2 linked regions of the Homo sapiens genome follow. The protein of the gene in region 1 purifies or fractionates together with the protein of each later gene. This does not show direct contact. Each region holds a gene or a part of one and is shown on either strand. Other genes may lie near its edges.

Region 1 (3,655 bases):
ACAACAGGGCACAAAATGTAATCATGACAGGGCACAAAATGTAAAGTCACAAGCAAAAGACAGACACATTTGACTACATCAAAATAAAAGCTTCTGTATACTCAAAGCAAAACTAAACAAAGCAAACAACAGCAAAAACAACAAAGGGACAAGGCACTCCAAAAACAAAGTTTAAAGATAAATGACAAACTAGGAAAAAAATTATTAATATCCTCATATGGAAAGAGCTCCTATAAAACAATAAGACAAAGCAAACTACTCCCAAAAAACACAAATAAATGACATAAACAGACAATTCAGACATAAGGAAATACAAATTAAAATATAGAAAAGAAAGTTCACCCTCACTAATAATCATGAAAATGCAAATTAAGACTGGATACCATTTTTTTCTCATGAGTGCTTGGCAGAAATGGAAGTCTACTGGCATGGGTGTGGGGAAGCAGGTGTTCATGCTTTAATAGTAATGTAGCCAGCACAGTGATAAAGGATACTCACTGTAGCAAATAACTGGAAAAAACCTTAACGTCCACCAATAGGGAAATGGTATAATAGAAAACTATGAAGCTGTTAAAACAGTGGGATAGATCTATATGCATGATATGGAAATAACTCGAAGAAACAGTGATACATTTTAAAAAGCAAACTGCCAAACAATATGCCTAGTATAATCTCGCATTTAAAAAACAGAAAAAAGGCTGGGTACAGTGGCTCATGCCTATAATCCCAGCACTTCAGAAGGCCGAGGCAGAAGGATTGCTTGAGCCCAGGAGTTGCAGGCCAGCCTGGGCAACAAAGTAAGACCTTGTCTCTACAAAAAATAAAAAAATTTGCCTGGCAGGGTCACATACACCTGTAGTTCCAGCTACATGGAAGGCTGAGGCAGGAGGATTGCTTGAGCCCAGGAGGTCAAGGCTGCACCGAGCCATGTTCATGCCATTGCACTACAGCCTGGGTGACAGAGCAAGACTTTGTCTCAAAAAAGAAAAAAAGAAAAAACAGAAAAAAATCCAAAACGCTGTTTATGTGTATATTTATGTACCTCAATAGATATGATAATAGTTATACCAAATTTTTTTAACAGTGGCTACATCTAGGAAGCGAACTGCGATGGTGTAGGTGATCACAAGAGACTATAGAATGACTTATACCATTAAATTTTTTTTTCTGTTTGATTATTTTACCAATTTTTTTCTGTTTGATTATTTTACTAAAAGACACATTTGCATCACTTGTTTAATAAAAAATAACGATGCAGCACTTAAGATAGTATCTAGCATATAGCAGTTGCTCAAAAATGCTAATTTCAACTTAAAAATAAATTAAGAAAATATTTTCAAAGAGTTAAAAAAATAAAGGATGATGTAGCCATAATGGTTCTATGGCCAAGGTTCTAAATGCTACATTATATAAGTGATAGAATTCTTCCCCAGGGAACAGAAAAAAGGGGCACGTTTAGGGGAAAAGGGAATTTACCAAACAACCAAAGAAAGATATCCAGGGTCTGTGTGTATTCACTGACCCAGAAACAAGCAGTAAATAAGTGTTTCTAGAAGTGCTTTACTAAAGGCACACTTAGCATATTAGAATGGTCAACTTACCTGTCGTCTTCACTACAGAGGTGGTGGAAACTCCATTGAGCTCACTAGAACTCCTTTTCACAGGCCTTGGCTTGTATTCTCGTCTGGGGACACTGGATGCAGCTGATATTCTGTAACACACATCGTAAGATGAGCCAGACATCTGATGTTGAAAGCTTTCCAAACACACATCCTCTCTGCCTTGTTGAGCACAGGAACTTAGGTTACAGCCAGTGGTCATGAAAGGGACGATTTTTACACACTGACTCTTGAGTAGCCCGAAGTGATGGAGGTGATATCACAAATGCAGTTTTTCAACTCCCTATTTGAGCTTGTGAGTGAAATTCATCTTGAAGAAGACTAATTGGGCCAGCCATGGTGGCTCATGCCTGTAATCCCAGCACTTTGGGAGGCCAAGGTGCTCACCTGAGGTCAGGAGTTCGAGATCAGCCTGGCCAACATGGTGAAACCCCATCTCTACGAAAAATACAAAAATTAGCCAGGCATGGTGGTGGGCGCCTGTAATCCCAGCTACTCGGGAGGCTTAGGCAGGAGAATCTCTTGAAACTGGAAGGTGGAGGCTGCAGTGAGCAGAGGTTACGGTGAGCCAAGATGGCGCCACTGCACTCCAGCCTGGGCAACAGAGCACGACTCCATCTCAAAACAAAACAAAACAAAACAAAAGACTAATTTTCTTCATCAAGTCTCTGAGGCATCCAGCAAGTGCCTGGGACGCGGTCGGCACCCAGTGATGGGAGCTGCCTTCTCCCTCACTCTACTCTTATAGATTATGATAGAATTATGAAAATACACTCCTGTCAGTAACAGGTAAACTATCTGCCTGCAGAAGTGGATGCTTCAGGGACTGAACACATCTTTGTCTTCCCTAGGTAACTACGTCATTGATTTAAGTAAAAATCCCTCCAAATTTATGCATTACCATAATCCTGTGTAAAACAATTTTCTGTTATCAAACCTAATTTAAAATATTTTAATAAACAGGGTTGCCATGCAGACTATATATAATATTACTAATTTTCAGAAAAGTATAGACTACATCTATGATTAAATTCACAAGGAATGCAGAAACCTTTCTTTGATTGTTCAGAAGATATTTTTGACTCTTTCAATACCTGTCAATATTATGAACACAGCCTGAAATTTGTCAATATTTTGACTCTTTCAATACTAGTCAATATTATGAACATATCCTGAAATTCGTACTGGTGAAGTGAAGGCACTACCTTTTTTTTTTTTTTTTTTTTTTACAGATATTTACATATTTTCCATACAGCATCTCACTTTTTTCCATAGCTCTGGATGTTTTCCATCCCTTTGTGAATGGGGAGTTAAACTCTCATCAAATCAGCAATGAAGCCAGGGTAGTTCTGTAGGGGTTGATGTCCCAGGTGGGAGAGCAACTTGGTTAGTTGCCCTAAACACGGGTCACAAAAAAAAGGGATTTAATGAAAAGAAAAAGGAGAAAAGCTGCCAGGTCCCTTTTCCCAGTTCTATCCTACTGGCCAAAGCCAGTACTTATTATCTCAGTCCCATCCCACATCCAACCATGAAAGCCAGTGAAAGAAAATTCAAAACAGAATGAGGCAGGGGAAGGGGGAGATGGAGAGATGGAGAGACAGACAGATGGATTTCAATAGATGTTACCTCCGCAGCCCTTGGCTTGTAAGAAACGTGGAGGTGCTTACCGCATCTGTAGCTTGCTCTGCAGCTCCTGCAGAATCTCTGTGGACTGTCTGTGATAGTCTAATGCTGCCTCTATGAACACAGCCAACTGGCTGACTTGTTCTACCTGCAGCAGAAGTGCAAAATTATTCCATGGAGGCCCGAGCCTGTGTAATGTCCAGAGAGAGAGGAGACCAGCAGCAAAGACCTAGCTTTGCAGGGAAGACCAGTGTCTGCCTTGGTCCATTTCATTTAATTTCATGTAGGAGCTCTGTATAATAATCATACAGGTCATGGTATGGAGCTATAAATGCTGGAAAAACATGTTCAAATTTATTTGTGATTATGAATTTGATTTAACTCAATAAAATGCCTGTTTTTCCAATTAGATG
Region 2 (3,655 bases), on another chromosome or scaffold:
AGCCTGAGTGACAGAGCTATTTTTTTGAGACTCCCTCTCAAAATAACAAATTAAAAAAATGAAAAACAAACAAACAAAAACGGCATGAGAAGACTCCCCTAGGAGGCAACATGGACCTTTAATATACAACTCCCATGCAGAAGAATTCTAGGTAATTTACATCAATACTCCACCTTTAAGATGGGTATAACTCCCAGTCCTTAAGTGTGGCCTGTACACAGTGACTTGTGCCATGTCCTCTGGCTGCTCAGCTCGTTTGGTTCCTGCTAATGTTTATGTTTCACACGGGCAGTGCTGTGGGATGGGCTGAGCTCCGGTAGGCAGGGGTGCTCTGGAATTCCTCATTTATGTGTTATGTGTCATGTGTCAGTTCAAAGAGCCTGCATCTTTAACATAAAACACAACTACCAAAAACTATGGATCCAGTGATTAAGAGATACTGTTTTATTTTTTTAAAAAGTTATCCTCAAAGTTTCAGGCGTGACTGTTCACCTACACATAAGCAAGCCAAAAAACAGTGTGTGGTAAAATCAGTGGTGGAAGAGCCGAAGGTTCGTATGAGCGAGGATGATTCCCAGTTCGTCGCAGGCCTCAATCACAACTTTGTCAGCAGCAGAACCGGAGGGAGCCGCAATGTACGCCACACCACTCTGGGGGAAGTATATTGATTTTCAAAACGCGATTTTATGTAAAAACCTGCAAAACTCAAAATCCCCCTCTAAAAAGCATATGCTAACAAAGATACACTCAGTCAAAAAGGCAAAATAACAACAGGATTTGGGTTCTCCATCCACCCAATGGAGAAGTCAAATGGTTCTCTGAATATTACTGATCTGTATCACTTTGCCACACCTTTTAAAAATCAAAAGCAGGATTTCTGAAACAGTTTCTACATAATGCTCAACTCTAAGCAAATGCACCCAATTCCATACTTACCCTTTTAGCTCTGTCTACGTTATCTCGGAAAGGGAAGAAGGCATCAGAGCTGATAGAAACTTCAGTCAGTTTCTCAACCCATTCCTTCTTCTCTGCCTCAGTGAGTAACTCAGGGACTTCCTCAAACAGTGCCTTCCACTTTATCAAATCTTCATCCTATGCGGGGAGAGAGAAAGGAAGAAGCTTGGTCTGACATCGTCTTTAGTTCTATGTGGTGCAAATCACCATGCCAGAAAGCACCTGGGCATTTTTCTTAGGACTTGTTTTTATTATTATTATTATTTTTTTTTTTTTAGACGGAGTTTTGCACTATCACCAGGCTGGAGTGCAGTGGTGCGATCTCGGCTCACCGCAACCTCCACCTCCCAGGTTCAAGCAATTCTCCTGCCTCAGCCTCCCAAGTACCTGGGACCACAAGTGCACACCACCACACCCAGCTAATTTTTGTATTTTTGGAGACAGAGTTTCACCATGTTGGCCAGGAGGGTCTCAATCTCTTGACCTCATGATCCACTCACCTCGGCCTCCCAAAGTGCTGGGATTATAGGCATGAGCCACCGCGCCCGGCCAGGATTTCTTAATTGTAAATAATGACCATTATTTACATGGAAGTTCACATATCTAGAATCTCTTTGATGCTTTTAGAAATATTTTCATTAAGGAAAAAAAGTGATTCTAAGTTTACCAAATAAAGATAATACCATTTTACTTTCCAAATCAGTTTATTCCAAGTACATATGTAATTTTTTTTATTTTTGGCTAAGCTACTTACATAAAAATACACTGTTTTAAAATCTCTAATTTAAATCTACTTCGTATCTACTACTTTATGTCTATTAGACTACCGTCTAATTTAAATCTACTGCTTTGGTACTACTGTAGCAAAGAAAGCAAATAAAAATTGTGTTCCAAGGGTTTTCAAAAAAACCCTCTATATCCAATCTAGGAAAGAGATGAGTAGTTCTTTAACTACATTTATACAAAAATTATTCTAAATGTAAAGGCAGTTGTAGACAAAACACAATTCATAATATTTGCTATGGTTTGAGTGTGTGTATCCACTCCAAAATTCATGTTGAAACTTAATCCCCAATGCAACAGTATTAAGAAGTATAAGGCCTTTAGAAAGTTATTGGGCAATGAGGGTGGGGCCCTCATGAATGGATTACAGACTTATAAAAGGGCTTCAGGGGAAGTATGCCCCTTCTGTGAAGTAAGGACACAGTGTTTGTCCTTTCCAGAGAGGGCTGTGCCATCTGGGAAGCAGAGGGTAGGCCTCCCCAGACTCTCAGCCCACCAGTACCTTGATCTGGGACTTCACAGCCTCCAGAACTATGAAAAATAAATGTCTATGGTTTATAAGTTACCCAGCCTGCAGTATTGTGTCATAGTGGCACAGACAGTTAATCATATTTTACAAGGTGCTTCTATCTTGGGTCATGTTTTAGCTTTGACATACTTTTATTCTTGTTCACTTCCAGGACTCTTTCAGGACTAGTAGCAGGGGTTGACTGGTAATATCAAACAGAAAAATCCAAGTATCAAAGTTGAAAAAAAAAAGATATCTTAAGGACTTCAGTTACATTCTGCAGCCTCACTCTTCAATGACACTTATGTTGATTCCTGCTCCTGAATAAAAAACTGAGGGTAGTCAATTGGCTCTTCAGAAGACCATCTAGTATTTGATTAGCAGCCTTCTGTTTTCCATCCAGCATTTTGTTAGGCACGCAATATGTCCAGAAACTGGGCTAGATCTTTTCTTCTGGCGGGCTACCTACCTAACGTTTGCGATTGTAATGTTCCCACATACCTTCTTCAAACAGAAGAACATGAAATGTAACAAAATGTATCAAGTTATTAATGGCACATGTAGAAAATGTGGTGGGAGAAGACCCCAGGGTTACCTGCCGTCAGGCAATTTGTATTTAATGTTGAATACAGACCCATCGGACAGCAAGCACCATGCATGACGTGGTGGCAGGCACCTCGACGTAGGTGAAAAGCAGTCCTTGTCATCAAAAGCTTATAATCAACAGGGGAAGTACAAATATACAAACCTACACCAAGGCTGCAATTTAAAAAGACAGAGGACTGTGGTTTCAGAAAGGGGTCAAAAACAATGAAGAAAGTTACATGAGACAGAAGAACATGAGAAATGTGTAAGAAGTTTCAATGATCAATTTTAGACAACATAGAATTTCAATGAAAGTATCTTTTTCTCTGTGTGGTGATGAAGTTAAAATCTGTTACACATAAAGGGTTGAACTGAATATTAACACAGCCGAGAACCCAATGCCAAGTCTTTCACCTCGCCAATGGTTCCAGTCACATATTGATCGATGGCATTGGAGATTTCTGCTCTCTTCACTCCTGTTTTAAACTTCATCGAAAGCACTTGTGGATGGTGTCTAAGCCACCAATAGTTTGCCTTATCTCCTGCAAGGCGAGTGCAGTGTATACGAGACTGCTGTCCTGCTCCAATGCCGATAACCTGAGGAACACAGACATTAAAGTGAACACCTCTTCCAAAGACACTTTCTTCTCAAAAGGATCTTTTGTGCACATTCTCCAAAACCTATTTATTAGTTTTGTGGAAGAACATATCAGGCCAAAATAAGAGAAATATAAATAATTTTTAAGTCATTAAAAGGGGTGGAGTAAGAGGTTTGTTTATAACTACTATTTATACCTCTTCAGTGATATGTGACATATGACTATT

Evidence for each region. Proteins that work in one complex are often made in the same cells at the same time.
Region 2: the proteins of SH3GL3 (region 1) and ATIC purify together in Homo sapiens (affinity purification with mass spectrometry; one large-scale study listed by BioGRID and IntAct). This does not show direct contact.

What each region holds. Positions count from the first base shown.
Region 1 is NC_000015.10:83,586,718-83,590,372, reverse strand, and holds part of SH3GL3 (endophilin-A3), read right to left. Parts: exon of another isoform or gene 3,398-3,655; intron 3,391-3,397; coding exon 3,287-3,390; intron 3,016-3,286; exon of another isoform or gene 2,860-3,015; intron 1,712-2,859; coding exon 1,602-1,711; intron 1-1,601. UniProt on the Homo sapiens protein: Implicated in endocytosis. May recruit other proteins to membranes with high curvature.
Region 2 is NC_000002.12:215,346,531-215,350,185, reverse strand, and holds the end of ATIC (bifunctional purine biosynthesis protein ATIC), read right to left. Parts: intron 3,428-3,655; coding exon 3,245-3,427; intron 1,093-3,244; coding exon 937-1,092; intron 651-936; coding exon 531-650; 3' UTR 422-530; downstream 1-421. UniProt on the Homo sapiens protein: Bifunctional enzyme that catalyzes the last two steps of purine biosynthesis.